Linked DNA regions of Homo sapiens. The protein of the gene in region 2 interacts with the protein of the main gene of each other region in a biochemical or structural test. Each region holds a gene or a part of one and is shown on either strand. Other genes may lie near its edges.

What was found. The genes of interacting proteins can lie anywhere in the genome.
Region 1: the proteins of SUMO3 (region 2) and RNF111 form a complex in vitro, tested with the Homo sapiens proteins (one study listed by BioGRID).

What each region holds. Positions count from the first base shown.
Region 1 is NC_000015.10:58,983,511-58,991,143, reverse strand, and holds the start of RNF111 (E3 ubiquitin-protein ligase Arkadia), read right to left. Parts: upstream 3,482-7,633; 5' UTR 3,076-3,481; intron 3,007-3,075; exon of another isoform or gene 2,739-3,006; intron 229-2,738; exon of another isoform or gene 196-228; intron 1-195. UniProt on the Homo sapiens protein: E3 ubiquitin-protein ligase. Required for mesoderm patterning during embryonic development. Acts as an enhancer of the transcriptional responses of the SMAD2/SMAD3 effectors, which are activated downstream of BMP.
Region 2 is NC_000021.9:44,807,855-44,815,475, forward strand, and holds part of SUMO3 (small ubiquitin-related modifier 3 isoform 1 precursor), read right to left. Parts: intron 6,251-7,621; coding exon 6,122-6,250; coding exon of another isoform or gene 6,008-6,121; intron 1,265-6,007; coding exon 1,193-1,264; intron 1-1,192. UniProt on the Homo sapiens protein: Ubiquitin-like protein which can be covalently attached to target lysines either as a monomer or as a lysine-linked polymer. Does not seem to be involved in protein degradation and may function as an antagonist of ubiquitin in the degradation process.

The DNA.
Region 1 (7,633 bases), on a different chromosome or scaffold from region 2:
TGTATTTTTTTTTTAGTACAGACGGGGTTTCACCATGTTGGCCTGGCTGCTCTCGAACCCGACCTCATGATCTACCCGCCTCGGCTTCCCAAAGTGCTGGGATTACAGGTATGAGCAAGCGCACCCAGCCTCAGCTAAGTATTTGTCTTTAAATATTTGTAATTCACTCCTCATGTAATGATATAAATTGAGTACCTGTAGAAACCTGGGCCAGCTGTTACCAAGAATCTGTAGGATGTAGGAAAGAAACAAACAGAGGTATAAGACATTCAAATGTAATTGTGGACTTTTACTGAACAATAATTACAGGTTTCTGAAAGAAAAACAAATTATTCCAGATGATTTTTAAAATGTTACCAGGAGTAATAAAAAATTTCATTTTTAGTACCATCTGAAAGCTATTAAAGCTTCAGTAATTAATATCTACAATGGGACAACAATAGCAATAATATGTGGAACAACAATCATAGTTTTTTTGTTTGTTTGTTTTGAGAAACAGTCTCGCTCTGTCGCCCAAGCTGGAGTGCAGTGAGTGGCACGATCTCCGCTTACTGCAACCTCCGCCTCCGAGGTTCAAGCCATTCTCCTGCCTCAGCTTCCCAGGCAGCTGGGACTACAGGCGCACACCACTAAGCTCGGCTAATTTTTTGTATTTTCAGTAGAGATGGGGTTTCACCATTTTGGCCAGACTGGTCACCTCAAGTGATTCGCCCGCCTTGGCCTCCCAAAGTGCTGGGATTACAGGGGTGAGCCACCACGCCTGGCCCACAGCTTCATGACAGGTTTTACACATACACATTTCATGAGGGAATTGATGCTTTTTGTACAGCATTTCTTTCTGGGGATTCAATTACGACAAACACAACAATGAATACCAAAAACCTAACTAGATATACAAACCATTAAATTTGGGACCTAAAGAAAACGAAAGTTATCTATTCTACAATTCTCATTTAAACAGAGAGACCTGAAGCCCAAGGAGGGTTAACAATAAACTCGGAGATCTAATGTATAGCAAGCAAAGATAGATCTAAAATCTAGATCTCCTGTCCTTAGCCCTATATTATTTCATAAGATAACGTTACCCATAGAACGGTAATGTCAAGTTATAACATATTTTAACTGCTATCATTTTTCAGATGGTCTCTTTTATTTCCTACTGAAGTCTTGGCCCAAAAGGGGAGAAAAAGTCAAAAGAAGGGCACATAAGTATGCCTCAAGTAAAGCATGATACAGAAACCTCTCTTTAAACTATAACAAAAAAAAAAAGAAGGAAACATCTAAAAATCTAAATGGTTTGATTCAATTAGTTTCCTTTATATTTTTTATTTTAAAGTAAAATAACTAGGAGTATCTGCTAAATGACTGCACCTTAGCTTTATACAAGCAAGGTGCTTTTCTCTTAAACATCACAACAGCTCTCTCTCAATAATCTGTAGAAATGGAGTACCAAAGTGAAATTCGTTAAGATGTAACCTCTGCTGTAATGCATTTTTCACCAAAATGAAGTCACTTTGTTTATACCTTTCTTTAAAAACCAGTTCTATGTCTGGTGAAATAACTAGCAAACAAGTGGCCAACAGACACCAAACAAAAGTTAAGAAGTGACAGAAGGATCTGCACATGATATAGCACCCGTGATAAACAAGGAGACTCATTCTTCCTACTTTTTCCTAAAATATTATTTAGATTTATAAACACCCTCACCAATTCTTAGAATACTGTTGTGAATCTTTGGTCACAAACAAATGAGCAGGAGAGAGATGATAAAGTCATTTGTCCAAGGTTAAATGGCAAGAAAGTGTCCAAAATAAGATAAATCAAGGCTTTAGAAACAATCAATTTAAAATGATTGTAAAAGTAAAAGGGCTTCCTTCTTATCCATCTGTTTCACCTCACAAATATAACCAGACTAGGGTGAAACAATGTGGCTTATACTGACATGAAGATTTTTACAAAAATACATATAGTAATAAACTATCAAAAGATGTATCTTTACTGTAATAAAGCTAAGTCCAGCGTTACAGAAGTTGTGTATGGTAATCTCAAAATCACATTCAAGCATTTACAACCATCACACACACACACAACAAAAATGGGAAAGGAAATGGAACCTTAGCTTATGTTTTTCCCAGTTTGTTCTTTTTAGTTCAAGAGGCCCCTAAAACAAGAAAATTATAGATAAAATACCAAATGAAATAAAGTTTAGATTAAGTCACATTCAAAAGCTACAGGAAATCCTACAAAACGTAGTCTATGTCAGCTGGCATCTTACCATTCAAGAGAATTCTAAATTAATGCCGCACATAAATCAAGAAACAGGAAAGCTTACAACAACACAATGGAGTCACCCCACAACACACACACGAACAAATTAAATGAATACCTCATACTTTCTGGTATTTTTTGAATAATCAAAACTTAGGTTGAGAAATACCCATCTGTAAAGATCTATCTACTATAACCTATTTAAGAACTGTTGTAACAAATCTATTTCTGCTGCACTGAACAGATATTCCCACTATAGCACTGACACTGACTCTGATAAATTATCGAAGGACAATAGTAAAAACATCAGTTTCTTTTTAAATGACCAACAAGCCAACTCCATACAAAATCTGACGCGTCTGTATTTCAGCTGTTCCGCGGACTACGTTTCCTTGATCACAGCAGCAGCAGGCGACTCCCTAGCCGTCAGGGCTGACTTAGCGCCCTCCAACTCCCCGGGTCCGGGTTACCTTCATCACTCCATTGTCAAATCGCACTCCCACGCCTCGGTCCTCAGCCCCCATCCTGAGACTCTAGGGAGAGTCGGAAGTGGGAGAGAAATCCCCTCACCCACACTCCCTCACTGTAGGCTGTGGGTGTGTCGGTAGACGAATGCCTTGCCCAAACACAAATCGTCTGCGGAGACCCAGACCCTAAGTCACCACCGAGCCAGAGATAACCGGCCGGTCACCGACCCCAGCCTTCCGCGGCCGCAGCCCTTCCTCTTTCTCCCCTCCAGGCCGGCCCCTCCCCCGTTGCGCGCACGCGCGGCCTCCAATGGATCCCCTCCCCCCCCGTTCCCCTCACCTTAATCATTAGCCACCCTCTTCTCTTCCAGGGTCCGGGAATCACTGACCCAGGAAGGAAGACAGAAATGTAAGGCGTAAAGAGTAATGCGTCGAGAGCCAGCGATCTGCGCCTCAGACGTCGGCCTAATAGGCCCCTAGAGTCAAGAACAGTGTCTGTCACCGCCACCAAAACTGTACGTGCGGCAGCGCCTGGACTCGGCCCAGCTAAGCCGGCGTGGGTTCAGAATGCCTAATTTGGTCCCACAAGAACTCCTTCTCTGAAGCTGCGGGCGTTTCTACGCTGCGCAAACCGAACACCTCCTCGCCGTCGCCGCCACTGCCGCTGCTCCCCTACAGCCGCCGCCGCCGCTTCGCCGCCGCCGCCGCCTAACCAATTCCTCCCCTACCGAGGAGAGCACGACACTAGGGCTCTTTACGACAGTTCGGAAAGTGAGAGCGCAGTAGCCTTCACGCCTCCATTAACATCTGTTTGTTTCTGCGCTTGCTCGATTCCCGTTTCTCACCGTCCCGCCCCCTCGGTCCCGGCCCTCCCCCTTTGTACTGGTTTTATCAGTCTGTTGGCGAACTGAAAGGTGTCACAAAGCTCATTATTTAATTTTCTTTGGTGATTATGCGTTCAACATTTAAGCCAAATCTTGACTACATCTTGGTTCATTTTTTCGTAACTAAAAATTAACCAACTACAGAATTGATACATTTACAGATATACGTAAACAAAAACATCATGGGTTAGTGTCTTTCACAACAAATGATACCCATATCATATGCGCTAATGACATAAAGATCACGGCACCTCACTGTTAAAGTGAATTTGCTTCCGGAATCAGATCAAAAGTGGTCACATATCTCCTGCGAACTCGGGCTGTACAATCGCATAAGCCTCCTTGTTTATTTTATAAAAGTCAGTAGATAACAAATGCGTCATTATATGCATTAGGAGGATAGAGAGAGGATGAGCTTCAGAGTCCATCAGGCAGACTTCCTTTCAAAGTCCAGTGGTGCCACTTAAGAGTTCTCTGATTGATGAGATCCTTATAAATCTTAGTTTCCTCCTCTATAAATTGGGATAACGTATTTACCTCAAAAGGTTCTTGTTAGATTAAATGAGACAATTTATATAATGCTCTGAACATTACTTGCCAATTAAGTGTTCACTAAACATTAATTCCCTCCCTTTGCCATCAACTCATCTTTTTCAATACTTTTTTTGTTCACTCATATTTTCCGTATCATTCAGTAAGCAAATGATTTTGGCCGGGCACGGTGGCTCACGCCTGTAATCCCAGCACTTTGGGAGGCCTAGGCGGGTGGACTACCTGAGATCAGGAGTTCAAGACCAGCCTGGCCAACATGGTGAAACTCCTTCTCCACTAAAAATACAAAAACTAGCTGGGCGTGGTGGCGGACGCCTGTAATCCCAGCTACTCGGCAGGCTGAGGCAGGAGAATCGCTTGAGCCAGGGTGGCCGAGGTTGCAGTGAGCCATGATCAAGCCATTGCACCCCAGCCCGGGTGACAGGGAGACTCCGTCTCCAAGAAAAAAAAAAAAAAGGCTGGGCGCGGTGGCTCACGCCTGTAATCCCAGCACTTTTGGAGGCCAAGGCGGGCGGATCATGAGGTCAGGAGATGGAGACCATCCTGGCTAACACGGTGAAACGCTGTCTCTACTAAAAATACAAAAAATTAGCCGGGCGTAGTGGCGGGCGCCTGTAACCCCAGCTACTCGGGAGGCTGACACAGGAGAATTGCTAGGACCCGGGAGGCAGAGGTTGTAGTGAGTGCGAGATTGTGCCACTGCACTCCAGCCTGGGCGACAGAGTGAGATTCCGTCTCAAAACAAACAAACAAACAAACAAACAAAACACACACACACACACACACACAAATGATTTTAAAATTACAATAATGATCAAGGATAGCAGATTGTGTGGGAAAACTAAAAGAGCATTCGACTAGGATTTTCCTCAATCCTCCTATTTTCTCACTCTTAAACATAGAATTTTGCCCGGACTATCTTATCTTCTCCCTTGATTTTAACTGTTACTATCTCATGACTTCTCAAACCTGTATTTCCAGCTCTAACCTTTTTTCTGAAGCTTTTGACCTGTGTTCTTCAATTAGGTAGACACCAGCCATATGTGGCTGCTGAGCACTTAAAATGTGGCTAGACTCCCTCCTCTTCTCCCTCTCCCCTCCCCTTTTCCTTTTCCGTCTCCCTAAAAAAATAAATAAATAAAAATAATTGAGAAGTGCTTTAAGTGAAAAATACACATCGAATTTCAAAGGTACAATACAAAAAAAGACTGAAAAATCTCAGTACTTTTTAATATTTATTATATGTTGAAATAATATTTTGGATATATTGGGTTAAATCAGTGGTTCTGAAGCTGGGATGATTTAGCAACATCCGGAGACATTGCTGTTTGTTACAACTCAGGGAGGAGGGGCGTGGCTACTGGCATCTATCCACTAGGATAGAGGCTAGGGATGCTGGCCTCTCCACAACAAAGAATTCTTTGGCCGAAAATGTTAATAATGCAGTTGAGAAACCCCAGATGAAATAAAAGGGTGAGGGCTTCAACCCTGTTGGGATGCTGAAGGAAAAGAGTCAGTAGAAAAAAGGAGTGGAAAGATAAAGAAAATAAAGGGATGCGCAATGGAGAAAAATACCTATGGAGCCAGAGGAAATGAGATTTAAAGCTCAGATGGAAATTTAGCCTTGGATAGGAGAAGGGATGGCCTTTCCACTGAAACAGGTGAGAAGGAAGAAGACTGCAGTTTAGGTATGTTAGCTTCAGGGGGCAAATTGAGGGCTTGTTCACTGAATGACCTTGACTTCCTTATGAAACATGAGGTAGGGCCATCTATAAACATATGAGCTTTGGAAAATGCTGGGCGGAGAGTGACTAGAAGAGATTTTAAAAATCAGAATAGTCACTACCATAATGGCAGAAGGGCAACAAATCAAAGCCCAGAGCAGAAGAGGAGTGAGGTTGAAGGGACAGGTGTTACGCAGTTGTATTTAGAAGAATAATGGTAGATTCGGGTGAGAAGCGGCTCTCACCTAATTTACACATAACAATTTTCTGATTTCTATGCTTCTGCTTCCACCACTGTCACCACACCACCCCAAACTCAACCTTAAGCCACAGTTAGAGTATGGCAGAAACTGATTAGACATTAAATTGCTTAAATCTTTCAATGATCCTCCATCACCTTCAAGTTAAAAATCCTTAGCATGACAAATAAAGCCCTTCAAAATCCAGATTCTTCAGTATCACTTCATACCAGCCCTAGTTCCCATCCTGTCCCCTGACCCTTCCTGGACCTCGGTGGACTTCTCAAACTTCTTGTAATTCTCCAGGAAAAAAAAAAAAAATATATATATATATATATAATATATATATAAAAGAATATATAATATATATTATATATATAAAAGAATATATGTTATATATAAGAATATATAATATATATGTAAAAGAATATATATATATATTATTCCTATATAACTATCAATTTTCCCCATGAAGCTAACAAACCTAATTGCATTAGTACAATCTCACTTCTTCCCTCTCACATGTTTCAGTGGAAAGGCTATCCTTTCTCCTATCCAAGGCTAATTCTTCCATGTGAGATTTGGATCTCATTTCCTCTGCCTACATAAGAACTTTCTTCAACTGACCATCTTTTTATTTCCATTATCTTTCCTCTCTCTTTTTCTACTGTTTCTTACCCTTCAGAATACCAGCAAGGTTCAAGACTCACCCGATCTTAACTCCATATTCTTGTAGATATATGTCTCTCTTTTTCCATCTCTCTGCCTTTGCACAGTTCCTTCTGTCTCAAAATTCACCCCCTTTCTCCACATTTCCCACCCATGCTTTATCTGCTTAACAAATTCTTACCCATTCCTCCAAGCCGTCTTCCATGAAGCATTTCCTTACCGCTCTCCCCACCCCTTGAAATGGACTTACTCCAGTTTTAGTACTCTCTTCAAGCTTTATACATACATCTAAGTATTATGATTGTTTACATACATACCTGTCTCAAAACTTAAAATCAGAGAAAATGTCTTTCTCTCTTAAGTAGAAAAATAGCACTCAAATATTTATTGAACTGTACTGAATAAGAAGATTGGGATTCTAATCTCAATTTTGCCAGAAGAAACCAGAAATCCTTAATCAAATCACTTTAAATATCTGAAAATTAATTTTACTCACTTGTGGAGAGATCAAGTTTTTCCAAATGCACTCCAAACCAAATTCTGCTTTCCTCAAACTGCAGCCAAATAATGTTTACCAAATTAGTCTGCATATATGGGCCAGCAGAATCTAACTACTGCCTGACAGGAATTTGAGGAGTTTGGTCTAAACATGGAAATACTGGGCTGAATTAGTGAGTTACCTGCAATCAAGGGTAATAAGAAAATTTCTACAAACTATCAAAGTCAGAAGGAAAGACTGGTATGCCCATCATCCATTGCATAGTTCACAACTGTATAAAGTCTGCAAGTGAGAGTAACTAATTATGTGGTCAGCTTCGTGAGCTCTTTGG
Region 2 (7,621 bases):
CACGAGGCCCTCCCTGCTCAGCTGCTCTCAGCAGCTTCTCCCTGGTGAACACTCCCAGAGCTGCCACTGCCTCAGCGGTGTGTAGGTTTCCTCAAGTAGGTACAAATGGATACTTGTTGCAAAGATGTTTTCAATATTTATTAAATACTGAATAGTAAATATTTAAAATCTTAAATGTTTTGCAAAAATATTTCCACATAAAACATTCCAGTGGATTCTCACAACATTGAAAGGGAGAAAAAGCAGGTATTGGTTCCATTTATGGACAGACAAAACTGAGACTCCACAAGATGAAGTGATGCTTGGTCACGGGGCCATCAGCTGACAAATGACAAGAGCTGCAACTTGAACCAAGTTTAAAAAAAAACTCTGTTTCGGCCGGGCGCGTTGGCTCATGCCTTTAATCCCAGCACTTTGGGGGGCTGAGGTGGGCAGATCACAAGGTCAGGAGATCGAGACCATCCTGGCTAACATGGTGAAACCCCGTCTCTACTAAAAATACAAAAAAATTAGCCGGGAGTGGTGGTGGGCACCTATAGTCCCAGCTACTTGGGAGGCTGAGGCAGGAGAATGGCGTGAACTCAGGAGGCAGAGCTTGCACAGTGAGCTGAGACTGCGCCACTGCATTCTAGCCTGGGCAACAAAGCGAGACTCCGTCTCAAAAAAAAAAGTCTGTTTCCAGGTCCAAAGCTCTTTCCATGACAGTATGATGCCCTGCAACGTGATAGATGAAATCTCATTCATGTCTGCATGTGCCTGAGAGAAACGAGCTGTGCAGACTGATAATCAGGGGTTATGGCACATTCTGCCCACCCACGTCACTTGTGCAAGATGCTTAAAGGGCACAAGAATCCAGCTGGCCCCTAAGCTGCACACGGGCTACAACAGCAAGCGTCCAGACAATGAGTGGGAAGGGGCCGCTGAGTGGTCCTTGCACCCCCGCTTCCCTTACAGTGAGGACGGGCCCAGCACTTGGCTCCATCTCCAAACAGCAAGAATGATGTCTGCAAAGCAGTTTTCTCATTTGAAAATTTAAATTTAAAATGTGAAAAATAAATAATCTAATAATCAATATCATTAAGGCATTCTGTATGAGCTCCCACCTACAATTCTCAAATAAGCGTATCCCAAATGGCAGTTACCCCGCACAAATCGGAAGTCGCCCTGGAACCACGCGAAGCCAGCTCCGTACCTGTGCTGGAGTGTCAGTTTCATTGATTGGCTGCCCGTCGAACCTGAATCTGATCTGCCTCATTGACAAGCCCTGGAAAGGAAAAGCAGTGGCCATTAGTCTCACTGGCAAGCCCTGGAAAGGAAAAGCAGTGGCCATTAGTCTCACTGACAAGCCCTGGAGAGGAAAAGCAGTGGCCATTAAACATTTCCAGATACGGCTTAATTCAAAAACCAAATATTTTAATCCAAGTATCAGCATTCTGATATGCAGATTTATGATCCAGCTCAGTATTAAAAACTCACCAGTGGGCCTACAATCTCTTTCACGCGGTGCCTGACACCACTGCTTTCAGAACCCACTCTTCTACCATCTTCTCTCTGATGAGCTAAAACGGCTCATTTTCAACCCAGGTTTTGTTACACCATTGCATACTGGGAACTTCTTAAAGCCAAACCAGTGGCAGTTCAGTTTCAAAGCAGATAGGTAAGTGGTCCATGGCAGAAGGAAAGCCGACTTACATTCAAACACCAGAACACAAGAGACGTCCTAGACTAACATCCAAACTCATGTACCTCTAAAATCCACCCTTTCTTTACATACGAAACCCAGGTGAGGAAGCGTAACACGTCACAGTGACGCTAGCTCAGACAGCTGTCAGCCAGGAGGTCTCTGAGGAGCAGGAGAAAAGCTGGACTAGCATTGGTGATGTGCCAGGGGAGGGGAAATGAGCCGCCAGGTGAATACTAACCTTCCAGTGGCTAGCTTTTCAATCAAAGTTTCTCAGTGCAGTGGCCGTGTGGAATGGTCAATTCAAACACTGAATCTTCTCTGTCCTGGTGCCCTGACCTGTCCTGGGTCATCCCTCCCATCTTTCCAGAAGCCGAGTAGAACTTCTACAATGCTGGCACCACTACTTCCCCCCTTTACAAAGTTCTCAGCAAGGAACAGGTTGTGTGCCAATGAGGGACAGATAAGAAGGCTGCATGAGGCCGGGGAGCAGTTACCACCATGACTTTGGCCTTGAGGAGGGCAGCAGGAAGGAGAGCACGCAGCCTTTCTGCGTCCTGAGGGAATGGAGAAATGTGGTCAGGGGCAGAAACATTTCCTCAACGAGCAGTTTTGATTTAACTGAAACAGGACAGACGGGGTTAAAACGTGCATCTCTGCTCCCTCCTGAAACCCCACTGAAATGAAGTAAATGAAAAAGGCACAAACAGGAAGGACAAAGAAAACGGGAGTGGGGATGGGCAGATATGTCAATGCTGGGCTGAGCCAGAGGCTACTGAGGCGTGGACACTGGTGGTCTGATGGACACTGGACCAGGATCCTAGGGCGGAGGGACTGGGCACGCCCCAACCTGTGAGGCAGAGCTGTGGCAGGCAGCTGATTCTGAACAGCTGCCTGGAAGTTCACATGCAGACCCCTCAGGCAGGACCCCCACAACCCTGTGCCTCCCACGGCAGCACACATGAGATGTGCTTTCTGAGAAGGTGGGTGCGGAGCTCCAGGCGCAGGGCGGAAACAGGCCCACGAAAGCGCGTGCCCTCAACACTGTGCGCCAAGTCCCCTCTCCCCTCCAGATGCGCCTCCAGGAGGCTGGCCGGAGCCTGGAGGACTCAACTCTCAAACTGTAGCATCTGGGCGCCTCCAGAACCTGCAATCCAGACAGATCACCCCATGTGGATGCACAGCCCTGGCAGCACAGCCATCCATGTACACAGCTTTTCAGCAGCTTCTCGGTGCTCCATGCTTGCACAGAAGTCAGCCTGCGTGAGAGCAGTCAGGGAAAGGCTCACTGTGCAGCAGCCTAGAGAGGAGGGGAGGAGCGCAGAGGAGAACGGACAGGAAGGAGGCAGGAGAACACTCCCAACACAGGCACACACATGCCCACACCCACACATGCCCACACCCACACACATGCACACACCCACACATGCACACCCATGCACACACCCATGCACACACCCACACATGCACACACCCACATATGCACACACGCACACACCCACATACACACACGCACACACCCACACATACACACACACGAATGCACACATGCACACACCCACATACACACACATGCACACACCCACATATACACACAGGCACACACCCACACATACACACACAGGCACACACCCACACATACACACACATGCACAAAGACACGGACATACACACCACACACACCTACACTCACGATTCAAATTCTATGGGAAGTAAAAAATACTACTACCTTCAGAAAACAATCAATTGCTACTGAGGATGGGTGCGGTGGCTCACACCTGTAATCCCAGCACTTTGGGAGACCGAGGCAGAAGGATCACTTAAGCCCAGGAATTCCAGACCAGCCTGGACCACATAAGGAGACCCCATCTCCACAAAATAAAAAAATGAGCCAGGCGTGGTGGCGTGTACCTGGAGTCCCACCTACTCGGGAGGCTGAGGTGGGAGGATCACTTGAGCCCCAGGGCTCAAGGCTGCAGTGAACCATGATCACACCACTGCGCTCCAGCTTGGGGGACAGAGTGAGACCCTGTCTCAAAAAAAATAAGTTGCTACTGAGAAAAAAAGAACACTCAAAGAACAGAAAGAAAAAAGAACTTTTGGAAATTAAAAATCATGACAGAGATGAGAATGTCCACAGGAAGTGGAAAGATAAAGTTGAAATGACCTCCCGGAAAGAAGCCCAAATGCAACAATAAAGCCCAAAGCAAAATGGGAGAAAAATTATCAAATTTAAAATATCTAGGACAATGAGCAGCAGGAGGAACAGGAACTCCAAAAAGAGGGAACAGAGTCTGGAGAAGGATACAAATTATCAGAGAACTAACATAAGGCATATTTCCTGAATAAAAATAAACGTCCAGACCCATAAAGTGCCCAGCAGCATGAGTGAGAAAATCACCCACCTCTGAGGCACATAAGGAAACACTGAATGCCAGAATATGGTCCCAGATACTTCCAGGGAAAAACCAAGTTACAAACAAAGCACAGAGAATCAGAATCCACTGAACTTCTCACCTTTTTTTTTTTTTTTTTTTTTTTGAGACAGGGTCTTGCTCTGTCACCCAGGCTGGAGCAGTGATATGACCTCAGCTCCCTGCAGCCTCCACCTCCTGGGCTCAAACAATCCTCCCACCTCAGCCTCCTGAGTAGCTGGGACTATAGGCTTGCACCACCACACCTGGCTAATTTTTTTAATGTTTCGTAGAGACAGGGTCTCCCTGTGTTGCCCAGGCTTGGCACTGAACTCCTGACCTCAAGTCTTGAATTCCTGACCTCAAGTGATCCTCCCACATCAGCCTCCCAAAGTGCTGGGATTACAGGCATAAGCCACCATGCCTGGTGAACTTTTCACTTTTAACATTGGGAGCTATTCTCATGGCTGACCTCTGAAATAAAAAAGAAAAAAAAGTTTCAACCGAGAATATTACGTGCAGCCACATACTGAAGTGTGAAGGTTTATAAAAGCAAAAGTCACGTTCAGCCATGCAGTGTCTCAAAGACGCTGCCCTTCTGTGCCCGTTCTGACAAGACCCTGGAGGATGTGCTCCACCACAAAACACAAAAGGGAGGAGGACTAATCCAGGAAACACCCAAGAGAGAACCCAAGTTTCTAGAAGGATTTGAACAGGAGGCCCTGGACCACGGCTGAGCAGCCAGCCTCACAAGCAGCAGTGCAGGTGGGGCAGGAGGGGAGCTCCGGGAGAGCAGGGGGAAGGGCAGAGCCCCCCCCACATGTACACGGCCCCACACGCCTGCCATCCCGCAGCGCAGAGGAGAACATGGGCACCCGGGAAGTCACACACACAGTGGCCACGAGCCCAGGCAGTACAAACTCCAGCAAGGGCCAGGGCCCAGCATCAGGCAGAGGCTGGATCACGGGGCCTACACGGCGCCAGGCCACTCACTCTGCTGGGAAGACCGGGACCTGCGTGTCTGGAAGCTCAGTCTCACCTTTCGCAGGTGAAAATAAGATCTGCCCTCAGCAAACACAAAGAAAGGAAGTCAGGGGCTGCTTGCCAATAAAGAATGCAAGGCAGTCGCCAGTGACTGCCCCTATGAGCAGGGTATCCAAAGTGGGAGGGAAAGAGGAGGAAATCTAACTGAAAATCCACAGGCAAAAGAGTAAAATAAAAGGGCAACGAGTTGCTGTATTTTCAAAGCGGCTGAAGAAAAGCAGCCTCTAGGTCCCACTCAGGCAAGCAGGGCTCCCTGGGGAAGGGCGCCTGGCTGCAGGGCCGGGCCCCCAACACACCAGGCAGCAGCTGGTGGGCAAAGCCCATAAAAGTGGCCTAGAGAGGGACCCCCTGGCCCAGGGTGAGTCCGCCACAGCGTTACCAAGAACAACAGACACACACACACCACGTCACAAACAGCAGCCAGAAGGCATCCACCCAGCTGGGCACTGCCAGTGGGGCAGCTCATTATCCTGAAACTGGGGAAGAAGGGGAAAGAATCACGCGCTTTCTTGCCTTTCCTAACAAAATGGAAAACCACACCGCACATGAGGGCAGTGTCTCTCCAGGGTCAGGCCAGCTCATACGCGAGGACAGGGTGACAGCGGCGTGGGGCACACGCCACCTGCAGCCCCAGAATGGCCAGACCTGAGCAGGGCCCCCAAGAGCCTTCAGCATCACAGACTTCACAGATGTTAGTACCCCATGGAGAACACAGCACCCCGGGCAGCCGCCCTGTCAGGAAGAAAAACCCACCACACTTCTCCGAGCCTCTAGGTCCCTCCACCTTATAAAAGGCCATGGGGGACAAGCCCAGCCTGGACTAATTTTACAGCACAAGCCCCCGCCTGCCCATCCACGAAGAGGGCACCTCGGGCAGCTGCATCTGGGTCCAGCCCCGAGACGCTCGTGCTCTGGGGATGCCTGGAACGCACAGGACCAGTGCGCACACGGGGAGGCTCTGCGGGGGAGCAAGGTGCCGCACCTGCCTCTCGCAGTAGGCCTTCATCAGCTTGCTCAGCGGCGTGTGCCTCTTGATCTTGAACTGCACCACGGAGCCGTCCTGCCCGGCCACCTTCAGGTTGATGTGGTCATTCTCTGTCTTCACACCCTCCTGCAGAAGACACCAGAGACTGGCCTCAAAACTGTGTCTCAAAATAACCGCGACTTGAATGGGCAAGTCTTTAGGTAATTGTTGGCTTTTTAAAGTCATCAAAACCAACCTAATTCTTAAAATTCTCCAGCAATTCAGAGTCACTCGTGATGGTTTTATTTTTACACAGAATTTATTTTTAACTTCCACTTGTTAAGCATCCATGTGTAAAACAATGCAAGCCTAGGGTCCTCTGACATTGTTAATTCAAAGAAAAAAACAAAGTCTAGGGAAAAATAAGAGAAAATCCATCTTTATTTTAAAGTTATTCTTGTGGGCTGGGCACAGTGGCTCACACCTGTTATCCCAGTACTTTGGGAGTTGACGTGGGAGGATGGCGTAAGCCCAGGAGTTTGAGACCAGTCTGGGCAACAGAGCAAGACCCCATCTCTTTTTTAAAAAATTCTTATGAAACCAGTAAAAACACATATCCAAAAGTCATGCAGCTATACAGCACTAGTAAAAGAAACCAAAAACAGAAGAAAACATTTGTGACTCAGAGGAACCCTATGGGACATTCAAGTGGTGATTTCGGGAATCCAACTGAGGACGGCCACTCCCCACAGCAGGCGGCCAGGCTCCTTCTCGCTGCCCTGACATCAGCAAATGTGAGGGAAGCCACCTCCGAGTACTTTCTGGTTTCAAACTGTCCTATCTGAGCGGCAGTAGGTGGTACTATTTTATTTTTTAATTCATGCCATACTTGAAGCTACTCAACAATGGCACAATCGGGGTGTCTTGTTGCCTGAAAATGCATTTTGAGTTGAGGCAAAAAGCTGATGTCAAGAGACTGGGAGCCAACTTCGGGGCAGCTCAGTCTGAGCCGAAAAGTGGGGCACCCCTCTGCCGGCCTGCACTGCTGGGATAAAGTCGTTTGTGAGTGAAGCAATGAGGCAGGGCCCTCCGGCTCACTCTGAAAGTCAAGTCTGGGGCGTCCTGGTACCCTTTCACCCCATGCTGAGCTGCTGCCCTCAGGAAGCACTGTACATCACACGCCTGTTCTCTCCACTTCTCCTTTCCTTCCCTGGCTGGGAGAGGGACAACTGTCCCAGCGATGCCTAAATACAGGGAGTGGGATGTAGAAGGCTCGCCTGAGGGTGAACCCAGGGACTGCACCCATGCTTGCTTCCCTGGGGTATGCACCCTGGGGAGACCCTGGGGAGGCATGGTGCTCTGTCAAGGGAGCTAGAGTGGCCTGCAAGGGGCCTTGGCAGTGAGGGGCTCCAGCTGCGAGCCTGAAGGTGCGTGTCCTGGGGCGGCACTCACCCCCCGACTCCAGTCTTGGGCCAGACACCCCTGCCCACTCCCGGGATGCCAGTGGCTTGGCGGCAG